Regions from separate parts of the Homo sapiens genome. Here region 2 is linked to region 1. Evidence: fine-mapped expression QTL. A gene starts in region 1. The other region holds a variant in brackets. All regions are shown on one strand. Distances are between the middles of the regions. Region 1 holds the start of TNK2 (tyrosine kinase non receptor 2). Region 2 overlaps TNK2 (tyrosine kinase non receptor 2).

What was found. PIP is the estimated chance that this variant, and not a neighbour inherited with it, causes the effect.
Region 2: its variant is fine-mapped to the expression of TNK2 in whole blood (TOPMed, PIP above 0.99).

Annotation. Positions count from the first base shown.
Region 1 is chr3:195,905,604-195,911,036 of GRCh38, reverse strand. It overlaps TNK2 (tyrosine kinase non receptor 2), which reads left to right and starts at 2,486. Exons shown (of 16, transcript NM_001382273.1): 1 at 2,486-2,552. TNK2-AS1 (TNK2 antisense RNA 1) reads right to left here and starts at 2,961. Exons shown (of 2, transcript NR_145450.1): 1 at 2,259-2,961; 2 at 1-1,172. RefSeq lists enhancers at 903-952, 3,943-4,172, 4,223-4,272 and silencers at 1,083-1,732, 1,783-1,972, 2,023-2,272.
Region 2 is chr3:195,867,759-195,872,758 of GRCh38, reverse strand. It overlaps TNK2 (tyrosine kinase non receptor 2), which reads left to right. Exons shown (of 16, transcript NM_001382273.1): 10 at 289-483; 11 at 2,554-2,645; 12 at 3,218-3,262; 13 at 4,050-5,000. Among named protein-coding and RNA genes, the nearest start is that of LINC01983, 9.9 kb to the right of the region's middle. The variant A/G (reference allele first, on the strand shown) is at 2,342.

The DNA of each region.
Region 1 (5,433 bases):
TGCCACGTGTAAAATGGGGATATTATGTGTCTCCTTGGGTTGTCATGGGGTTGGATGAGAAGAATGCGAAGTGCAGGGCCTTGCACAGTTGGGCTCTGTGAGTCTTAGCAATGGCCATGACTGAGGCAGCGTGAGGGAGACTGGGAGAAAACCTCCTCAGTTTCCTTCTCCCAAATCTGTTGTCTTCCCCACTTTCTTTCCTGAAGCCAGGCGACAGGGGGGTGGTCCTGGCCCAGCCTCCTGGCTCCCTGGGGAAGGGCTGCCATTACTGGCAGTGTTAGATAATTTAGTAGAAAGTTGCCCTGCCCACCTCGCAGGCAAGGGACCGCCACCCAAATCCACCCAGACTGGGCCTCGTGTAGGTTTCCAGAAGCCACCCCTTTCTCATTGCCCTACTGCGCTCTGGCCAAGTCCCTGGGGCCCATTGCTGGACAGTGTGAGCGCAGAAAGAGCCAGCCCTACACAGTTTCCGATGTGTCTGATCTTGCCACCTACCGTGAACTGTTTTGTTATTACATCCATTTTCTAGATGAGGGACAGTAACAAGGGCTGAGTGGCCCTGAGCCCTTGGGCTCCACGCGCCCGCTGCCCAGGGCTGCCTCCGTTTGGGCTGGGACATGGGTCTGTGGGCTGGGAACAGGGCCTGCAGGCTGCCCCGCCGCTGGGAATCCGAGCGCTGGGTTTTCTCCTTCTGGGGTGGGGGCAGGGAGGAGACGGCTCAAGTGCAGGAATGAAGGTCCGCTTGCCTGGGGCTGTTTCTGCCCAAGTCCTCATCAGGAATCGTCAGGCCTGAGACAAACCCTCCCTCCTTCAGGAGTGCTCCGTTGGCCCCGGGGAAAGAGAGGTGATGGTCCGGGTTTCTGGGCCTTTGGGGTGCCACGGTGAGATTGGGACTAGAACCCCAGCCTCACTGGAGTGACCCCAGAAACCTTCCAGTCCAACCTCCTCACTTCAACTGAGGTTGGAACAACTGAGACCGGGTGGAAGTGACTTTTACACTCGCACAGTGCAACGGTAGCTACTCGGAATGAGAGACCTGTTCCGGCGCTCCTCCATTGCGCCCCTCGACTCGGCGGGACTTCTTCACCCAGGGCGCCACCGCTCCTCGGCACCGCAGGAAGGCGCAGGCCGGGCCCGGGGGAGTCGGGGAGAGCGGGGTAGGGCCCCGGAGGCTGGGGGAGGAGCCGGGGGAGGAGCGATGAGGCCGGGCCCTTTAAGAGGGCGGGCCGACTCCCCCCCACCCCCCACCCCGGGGCGGCGCAGGCGCAGGCGCAGGCGGGCTCGGGGCGCTCGGCAGGAGGGACGGCGGGCGGGCGCTCACCTGCGGGGGCCGGCGCGGGGCGGGCGCCCGGCGGGCCGACGTTGACGCCCGGAGGCGAGGGCGGGGAGGCGGGCGCGGGACTCGGGGGCGGCCCGGGGCGGGAGGGGAGGGCCGGGGCGGGCGGGCGGTGTGAGCGGGCGCCGAGGGCAGCACCATCTGGAGGGGTGGGAGCGCGCGGCCTCTGGGGGGCAAGCGAGTGCGCTGGGCCGAGCCGGTCGGGGGCCCCCGGCGGGTCGCGCAGGAGGAGCGCGGCGGGCTGAGCCCTGCGCTGCCGGAGCAGCAGCCGCAGCGCGTAGGGGTTCTCAGCTGGGGCCCGCAGCAGCTCCGCGGGCTGAAGCTCGGCGTGGAGGAGCGGGGCGGGGTGGGCCCGGCGGTGCAGGAGGAGGGCGGGGTGGGCCCGGGGCTGCAGGAGCGCGGCGGCCGCGGCCACGAGCCCAGCCGGGGGGTGGTGTGGGGGCCGCCGGACGGCGCGGGCTGGGGGCGCCCGCCGTGGTGGACGGGCTCGGCGGGCTGGCCTGTGGCGCAGGAGGAGGGGCTGGGGCCCCGCGGGCAGCACCAGGAGAAGGGCGGAGGCAGCCCCGCAGTGCAGGAGCGCGGCGAGGCCCGGGCCGGGGTGCAGGAGCGCGGGGAGGGGAGCCCGCGGAGGCTGCTGCAGCAGCCCGAACCGGCGTCCGAGTCCGGGGAAGGCCCCCGCGAGCGCAGGGAGGGGCCGGAAAGTTCCGGCGAACTGGGGGAGCGGCAGTGGGAGAGCGTCGGGCGGGAGGCGGTGGTCCTGGGAGCGGCCCCGGCGCCCCGAAGCCGCCCCGAGCTGGTGGGGAGGGCCCGGCCGGTGGGGCCCCGGGGGCCTGCGGGGGAGGGGCGCCTGGGGGTGCAAGAGGCGAATTGGCTGCCCGGGGTGCAGGAGGGACAGGTGGTGCGGGCTGTCCAGGAAACCTACCTGAACGGGAAGGAGCCCCAGGAGGGAGAGGGACCCGGCGAGGGGCTCAGGACCCGGAGGCGCCGGCGGAGGAGGAGGTGGTGACTGGCAGGCCCGGGCCCCACGGTACCTCCGGGGCTGAAGGGGACGCAGGATGTAGGGGCATGGGGAGTCGGGCGCAGAAGAGTGCGGGGAACCGCTGAGCTCTGGGAGCCACTGCCTGAGGGCAGGCCGCGGCCGGCGGGAACCTCTTCTGCCGTCTCAGCCTGGGCGTCGCTGAAGCTGTGTCTGCGGGGAGGCAGCGGAAGGCGGCAGGTAAGGAAGCCCAGTCCTGTTAGCTGGAGTTGGTGTGCTTGGAAGTGAGAGGCTGCAGGTCCCTGGCGAGAGCGTAGACTCCACACTGCCCTCGTTCTTTTGGCCTTTCATCCCTGGAGGGAGGAAGCAGTGCAGTTTTCAGCGGCAAGGCAGGACCTCTCCCCCGCCAGTACTGTGTATGGTAATTGGAGTGATAGGGCATCTTCTTAGAGTCTAGGCAGCAGGCGGGACGTCTGGGTGGCTGCCAGGTCTGTGCAGAGGGAAGAGAGGGGTAGCCCCAGGGAGGAGCTGCAGGACGGTCCCCCCTCCACCTGCCCCCCGATGGCAGTAGGGGTGCCTCCATGCTATATGCTCTGCATGGTGCAGTCAACACACAAGTCCTCAAAACACGTCCCACAGAAGGGAAGAGGGCAGCGTGGGATTAACAGAACCTTATCTTGTAACCCTGTTGGTCACGTGAGCTGAGATGAGTGTGACAGCTAGTGGCTTGGGTACGGCACGAGCCTGGCCCGCTTCTGCCACGCCGTCCTGTCACAGCTGATTTACCCTGAGGGCCCAGAGCCAAGGATGATTAGTGGGCGGAAGGAGGGAGAGCAACTGGTGAGCCCTCTCGTCTCTGGGTGGGACGACCCAGCGTTAGAGGGGCGGGAGAGGAGGGTGCACTTGCACCCCAGGGCTCTGGGCTGCCTCTGTGGCCCCACCCTGGGGAGGTTTGCAGATGGGCCGCTGTGGTATCATGGGCTCTGCACCTGTCAGGACAGGAGCTCCCAGCCCAGTCTAGAGGTAGGGCTTGTAGGGGCCAAGGGTGGGGGCTGTATTTGGCTTGTTGACTCCCTCGTGGCCTGAGTGCCAGACCTACTCATTCCGCCTCGTGCCCCCAGGGGGCTTGGCGGGCTGCTTGTGGGCCTTACTCTCCTAGAGCTGTTCGCCTCTTACCTGGCACTGTCAGGTGCTTGCTTCCCCTGCCCCTGGGTGGGGATGGGTGCAGGGTTGCTGCTTGCCCAGGGCCTTAGCTAGAGGACCCTCCTCTGCCCCAGCCCGAGGTGTGGCTGTGAGTCAGATGGACCCAGACCCCTGTCCCGAACCAGACTGGGTGCTCTCCTCTGGGGGCAGAGGGAGTGGTGCTGGAGGTAGCAGCTGCTGGAGGAGCCGGTTAGCCCGCTCCTCAGACAAACTCAAACCCGCCTGTCAGCTTCATCCCATGCCTGTCGCGCTGCCACCCAAACACTCATGCACCGGAAGTTCAGCTGCTGTGCCCACGGTGCCTGACGCTTCTGGAATGGCCAGAGTGGCTCTCACTGTCTGGCTTCAGTGGAGAGAACGGTCTGTTTTAAACACATACACACAATCTTCACCTACTTATTTCAGGTCGGCGTTTTTGAACTTGTGGTAGATGAATGGGAGAAAGGCCTTGGCATCACACAGATTGCTTTTGATCTGGTTATATCGCTTACAAGCTGTGTAACTTCCTTGGGCAACATAATGTCTTTAGGTTTCAGTTTCTTGGTGTCTGCGGTGGGCCAGGACTTCCCCTGCAGTGTCGTGAGTAAAGAAACCTCAGGCCCTTTGGAGCCTGGTGCCCACCTCCCCGGAGCCCCGGCAGATGTTAGGGAGGAAGGGTCAGACTGTTCCCTCTGGCCCCTGAGCCCGGGATTAGCCCCCACCTTGTGCTTCGTCTAGAAGATGCAGTGTTTCTTTTTGTTTGTTTTAAATAACAGTTTTATTGAGATATAATGACATATGGTAAACTGAGCATATTTAAAACACACAATTTAATAAGTTGTGGCCTGTGTATATACCCGTGAAACCACCCCCACCTTCAAGATAGTGAACATCCCCCTTATTCCCCTGTCCCCAGAAGTTTTCTTGTGGAACCCCTCCATCCCCCGCTCCTCTGCCATCCCCTACCCCAGGTAACAGGCTGGTCTACTTTCTGTCACTGTGTCTGAGTTTGCAGCATTTACTGTAAACGGAATCGCGTCTTTCATTCAACAGAAGTATTTTGGAGTTTGTCCAGGTGGTTGCGCGTATCAACAGTCATTGTACACGTGTGCCAAAGTCTGTTTATCCATTGACCTGTTGATGGGTTTTCAGAGAAAGCTGCTGTGAACGTGTTTGTTAGTCTTTGTGTGGATGTACACTTTTATTTATCTTAGGTAAATCCCTAGGACCGGAATGGCTGGGTCATGTGGTAGGTACACATTTAACCTTTAAGAAACTGCCAGACTGTTTTCCAAAGTGGTTGTACATTTTATATACTCATCCACTGTGTATGAGAGTTCTGGTTTGTCCATGTCTTTGATATGTCCACATCTCGATGTGGTCAGTCTCTAATTTTAGACACTCTCATGTCTGTAGTGGTATCTCATTACAATTTTAATTTGTATTTCCTTAATGACTCATGTTGTCGGGCATCTTCTCATGTGCTCATTTGCCATACGTATGTCTTTGGTGCTGTGTCTGTTCAGATCGTTTGCCCATTTTTAATTGTGTAGGGTTTTTCGTGTTGAGTTCTGAAGAGTTCTTGATATATTCTGGATATAAGCCTTTTATCAGGTATGTGATTTACAAATCTTTTTTCCAGCTTGTGGCTTTGTATTTTGATCCTCTTAACAATGTCTTCTAAAAAATTCTCATGATCAGTAGTGCAAAATGCTGTGTTTTTGAAGAGAAGTTGTAAATTTTGATTAATTTACTAATTTGTTACTTTGTGGATTGCATTTTTGGTGTCATGTCCAAGAAATCTTTGCCTGACCCAAAGTCCCAACAGTTTTCCCCTGTATTTTCTTGTAGACATTTTATAGTTTTGGGCTTTACATTGAGATCTAGGATTCGTTTGGGGTTAATTTTTGTTACGTGGTGCAAGGTATGAATCAATGTC
Region 2 (5,000 bases), 38 kb after region 1:
TCATGTTGCCTGCTGCAGCAGCTTCCAGCGTGCCTCCTTATTTGCAAACCATAGGGAAAGCTGCCTGACCCACCTAGAGAGTTGTGGGTAAGGCCGTGTGCAAACAGGCCTGTACGGGGCATGGTGGGTCACGGGGGCTGTTGGGGAGGAGGGCCGGTGGCACACAGCCTGGTCCTGAGGCCTGAGCTCCATCCCCCTTCTGCCACAGTGGCCAGGGTGTGAGGAGGGTCCCAGTGCCGGGGCTGCCCCGCCACGCCTGGCGTTCACCGTGCCATCTCTGTCGCGCAGGGCCGAGAACTACTGGTGGCGTGGCCAGAACACACGGACGCTGTGTGTGGGGCCCTTCCCTCGCAACGTGGTGACCTCCGTGGCCGGCCTGTCGGCCCAGGACATCAGCCAGCCCCTGCAGAACAGCTTCATCCACACAGGGCATGGCGACAGTGACCCCCGCCACTGCTGGGGCTTCCCGGACAGGATTGACGAGTGAGTACTGGGCGGGGATGGATGCTGACCTGGCCCCGCTCGGGACTCCAGGGCCCTCAGCACGGCACGCGTGGGCGGAATCTGCTCTTCACCCTTTCGCCCGGGCTTCAGCCCCCGACCCGCCACTCTCCCCTCCTCACCCTGGCCTTACTCTCGGGAAGCTGTGGAACCCTAGGAAGCCCAGCCTGGTGGGGGTTCTCCAGGGGAATGTTCTCCAGGGGAGTGTTCTCCAGGGGAGGGTTCTCCAGGGGAGGGTTCTCCAGGGGAATGTTCTCCAGGGGAGGGTTCTCCAGGGGAGGGTTCTCCAGGGGAGGGTTCTCCAGGGGAATGTTCTCCAGGGGAGGGTTCTCCAGGGGAGGGTTCTCCGGGGAGCGTTCTCCAGGGGAATGCTGTCCCTGCCATTTTCAAGCTTTGGGGGGCCGATCTCCTAACTCTGAGACACTTCATCTGTGAAACAGGTTCACCCCCCCAATAAGGGGAAGGCTGTAAATGCACTCTGAATTAGCACTTGCTGCTCAGATGCAGGGGTCCTGAGAGAAGCTTTCCCACTCACTGTAGATGAAAGTAGGGTCAGGAGCTTCTGAGGATGGACTCCTGTTTGGTGGAAAGGTCCCCGGAGCCACAGCTGTAACCCCTCTTGGTACTCGGGCCTTAGGAAAATGAACTTGGGAGGAACCCGGTGGGAGCTGCTGAGGAGGAGAGCTTCTCCCATGACCCCCCTGTGGCCCCCTGTGACCCTGTGACCCTGTGACCCCTGCACACGAGCAGTGGTTTTCCTTCTCCTGCTGGTGGTGCCAGAGTCCTGGAGACGTGAACCTGCTGGCTCAGGCCCTGGGGATGTATGCAGGTCCACATGGGAGTGAGCCTGCTTTCCAGAACCAGAGTGGGACTGGGGACCTTGGGGACTGCAGAGGGAACGTTAGGTGGCAGCTCCGCCTCCCCACCACACAGTACTCTACGGAGCTCACTCCATACCTGGGAGAGGCCCTGTCTCCTATGTAAGAGGATAAGGCCACCGAGGGGCATCTGGGAAGGACACGCAGAATCAGTCACTTCCGGGATGCCACCCCCCACCCCCCGAAGCTTCTTGCGCCAGGCCTCCAAGCCTCTCTGCTGGCCGCAGGGGGATTCCAGGCCCCTGGCCTCTGCAGCCCTTCTCCTGCTGACTTCTGATACTCTGGTCTGCCCTGAGAGGCGTGGAAAGCAGGGGCCTTCACCCACCGGGCCCCACACACCAGAACCCCACACAGCGGGCCCCCACACACCAGAACCCACACAGCGGGCCCCCACACACCAGAACCCCACACAGCGAGTCCCCCCACACCAGAACCCACACAGCGGGCCCCCACACACCAGAACCCACACAGCGGGCCCACACACACTGGAACCCCAAGCTCACAGGGCTCAGCCCATGTGTTTTGCCTAAAAAGAACCCAGCAAGGGCCTGAGAGTTGGGGTGAAAGACTGCAGACACCTCCAGGAGAGGCTGGTGCCCTCTGCCCCACTCCTGGCATGCTGTGGCCAGCCCAGCCCCATTCCTCCAGGCTTTAATCAGCCCCAGTGACTAAGTCTCAGATACTGACAGTTGGTGCAGGGACGGAGGGTGGATCCGGAGCAGGACAGGTGGCCCAGCCTCTCCCGCACCTCCTGGCCATGTGGCAGAAGGGTGCCTCCTGCCCACCCTGGCTGGGCACCATAGCTGGGATGCCCCGTTCTTAGGCCCTCCATCGTGGCCTGCGGGACAGGAGTGTCTGCCCTCTGGCCGCTGCCTGGTGTGGGCTGGGGGCCTGGGGGGTTGTGGAGGACCACCTCTGCCCTTGTAGGGTGTAGTTGGAGTCCCTGAGGTCCTAGGCTTTCC[A/G]TCCTGGGGTCAGGTGTCCTTTCTCTGCCTTCTCTCCAGGACACCCCCCAGCTGAGACGTGCGGTCAGGTTCTGTGGACTGGGAGGCGGGAGGCCTGTGCTTCAGACCCAAGACTACACCCGGTTTCCTCCAGGACGAAGGGGCTCTGATGAGATTCTGCCACCCCTCCACACGCTTCCCCTGCTCTCTTGACCCAGCTCTCTCCCCCACAGACTGTATCTGGGAAACCCCATGGACCCCCCCGACCTCCTGAGCGTGGAACTGAGCACCTCCCGGCCCCCCCAGCATCTAGGAGGGGTGAAAAGTAAGAGCCCCTCTGCTCCCTGGTGTCCCTAACTCATCGGCTACTCAGGAAGGGGCACTGTCTTCACAGGCCACCCTAAGGCTGCTGTTCTGTTTTTGGGGACAGTGGGGTCAGGGCAGCAGGCGGGACAGCTGTGTCCCTGGCTCCGGCTGGGCGTGGGGTGGAAGACAGGCAGCTGTATCCGCCGAGGTGGGCCTCCTCGGGCTGGGTCTGCAGCAGGCCCGTCCGCCCCGGCGTCCCTCCTCCCTCCTTCCACGGCCGAGCTCAGATCCTGGCTTTCCTCACTTCCCCCTAATCCTGCTCTCCTGTCCCAAGCCAAAACCACCCCACGGCTCCGGCTCTGCCTGGGGCCTCCTCCATCTCCCGGTCCTCTGCCTATCATACTGGACCGCCGTGTTCCTCATCCTGCCGCCTGCGGCCTCCCGTTTGCTGGGGGCTTGTACATTCACTCGCCCCCATTCACTTCTCTCCCTTCGTCTCTCTACACTCTGCCCTCTCGTCCGGCCGTCTCCCTCCTTTGTCCTCTGTCCTGCTCCGTCTCTCTCCCCCTGTCCGCATGGCCTTTCTTGCAGGGGAGCCTCCACCTCGCCCACCTCAGCCTGCCTTCTTCACTCAGAGTAAGTGGGGCTGCTTCCGATGCCTTGGCCCCCGCCCCCGCCCCCTCTCTCTCACTCCTCTCCTGGAAGGTACAGAGCCTGGGCGGCTGGGCCGGAGGGGAGGTGGGTGGGTGTGTGCTGTGAGCTTCCGCGGCTGCCCTGGCCTAGCATGCCTGCCCCCCCTCGAGCCCGCCCCCCGGAGCCTGGGCTTCTGCTCACGAGTGTGGCCCTGGCTTCCGCCTCGGCCTCACTCCCTCCCAGACCTGTCTGAGCTTCTGGAGCACGAGTGTGGCCCTGGCTTCTGCCTTGGCCTCGCTGCCTCCCAGACCTGCAGGCGCTGTCTGGGCTTTGTGGCCGTTGGTCAGGAGTACTGTCCTCTCCAAGGATAGTCCTTATAGCCCCTGATGGCAGGAGGCGGCTCCGTGCCTGCACTAATGGTGTGCCGTGACAGGGGCGGGGATGAGGGCTCACTAACTCGCCAGGGCGCAGGAGCAGGGCCGCCGGGGTCTTGTGCTGGTGGAGGCAGCGTCAGGCAGGAGCCAGTGTTGCTTGCTGCAGCTTAGACGGAGCGAGGCGGGGCTCACCGGCCCACATGGGGCTGCCGGGCAGAGCAGGTTCCGCCCTCCTGATGGAGTGGTCGGAGGTGCGCTGAGAACCTGGCCGCCGGTGGCTGACCTCAGACCTCGGGGGGAGTTGGGAGTGGAGGGTTGCTGGGGGACACTTGGCTTTCTCTCCCACGTGCCACCTCCCCTCGTGTCCCAGACCCTGCCTGACTGCCTTCCTGTTGGGCTCTCCCTTTCCATCACAGAACCAACCTATGACCCTGTGAGCGAGGACCAAGACCCCTTGTCCAGCGACTTCAAGAGGCTGGGCCTGCGGAAGCCAGGCCTGCCCCGAGGGCTGTGGCTGGCGAAGCCCTCGGCGCGGGTGCCGGGCACCAAGGCCAGCCGAGGCAGCGGGGCTGAGGTCACGCTCATCGACTTCGGTGAGGAGCCCGTGGTCCCGGCCCTACGGCCCTGCGCGCCCTCCCTGGCGCAGCTGGCCATGGACGCCTGCTCCCTGCTGGACGAGACCCCGCCTCAGAGCCCCACGCGGGCACTGCCCCGGCCCCTGCACCCCACGCCTGTGGTGGACTGGGACGCACGCCCGCTGCCCCCCCCGCCCGCCTATGACGACGTGGCCCAGGATGAGGATGACTTTGAGATCTGCTCCATCAACAGCACCCTCGTGGGCGCGGGGGTCCCTGCCGGGCCCAGCCAGGGCCAGACCAACTACGCCTTTGTGCCTGAGCAGGCGCGGCCGCCCCCTCCCCTGGAGGACAACCTGTTCCTCCCGCCCCAGGGTGGGGGCAAGCCGCCCAGCTCCGCACAGACCGCAGAGATCTTCCAGGCGCTACAGCAGGAGTGCATGAGGCAACTGCAGGCTCCGGCCGGCTCCCCGGCCCCCTCTCCCAGCCCGGGGGGTGACGACAAGCCCCAGGTGCCTCCTCGGGTACCCATCCCCCCTCGGCCCACGCGCCCACACGTCCAGCTGTCTCCAGCCCCCCCGGGCGAGGAGGAGACCAGCCAGTGGCCTGGACCTGCTTCCCCTCCCCGGGTGCCTCCGCGGGAGCCCCTGTCCCCTCAAGGCTCGAGGACACCCAGCCCCCTGGTACCACCTGGCAGCTCCCCGCTGCCACCCCGGCTCTCAAGCTCACCTGGGAAGACCATGCCCACCACCCAGAGCTTTGCCTCAGACCCCAAGTACGCCACCCCCCAGG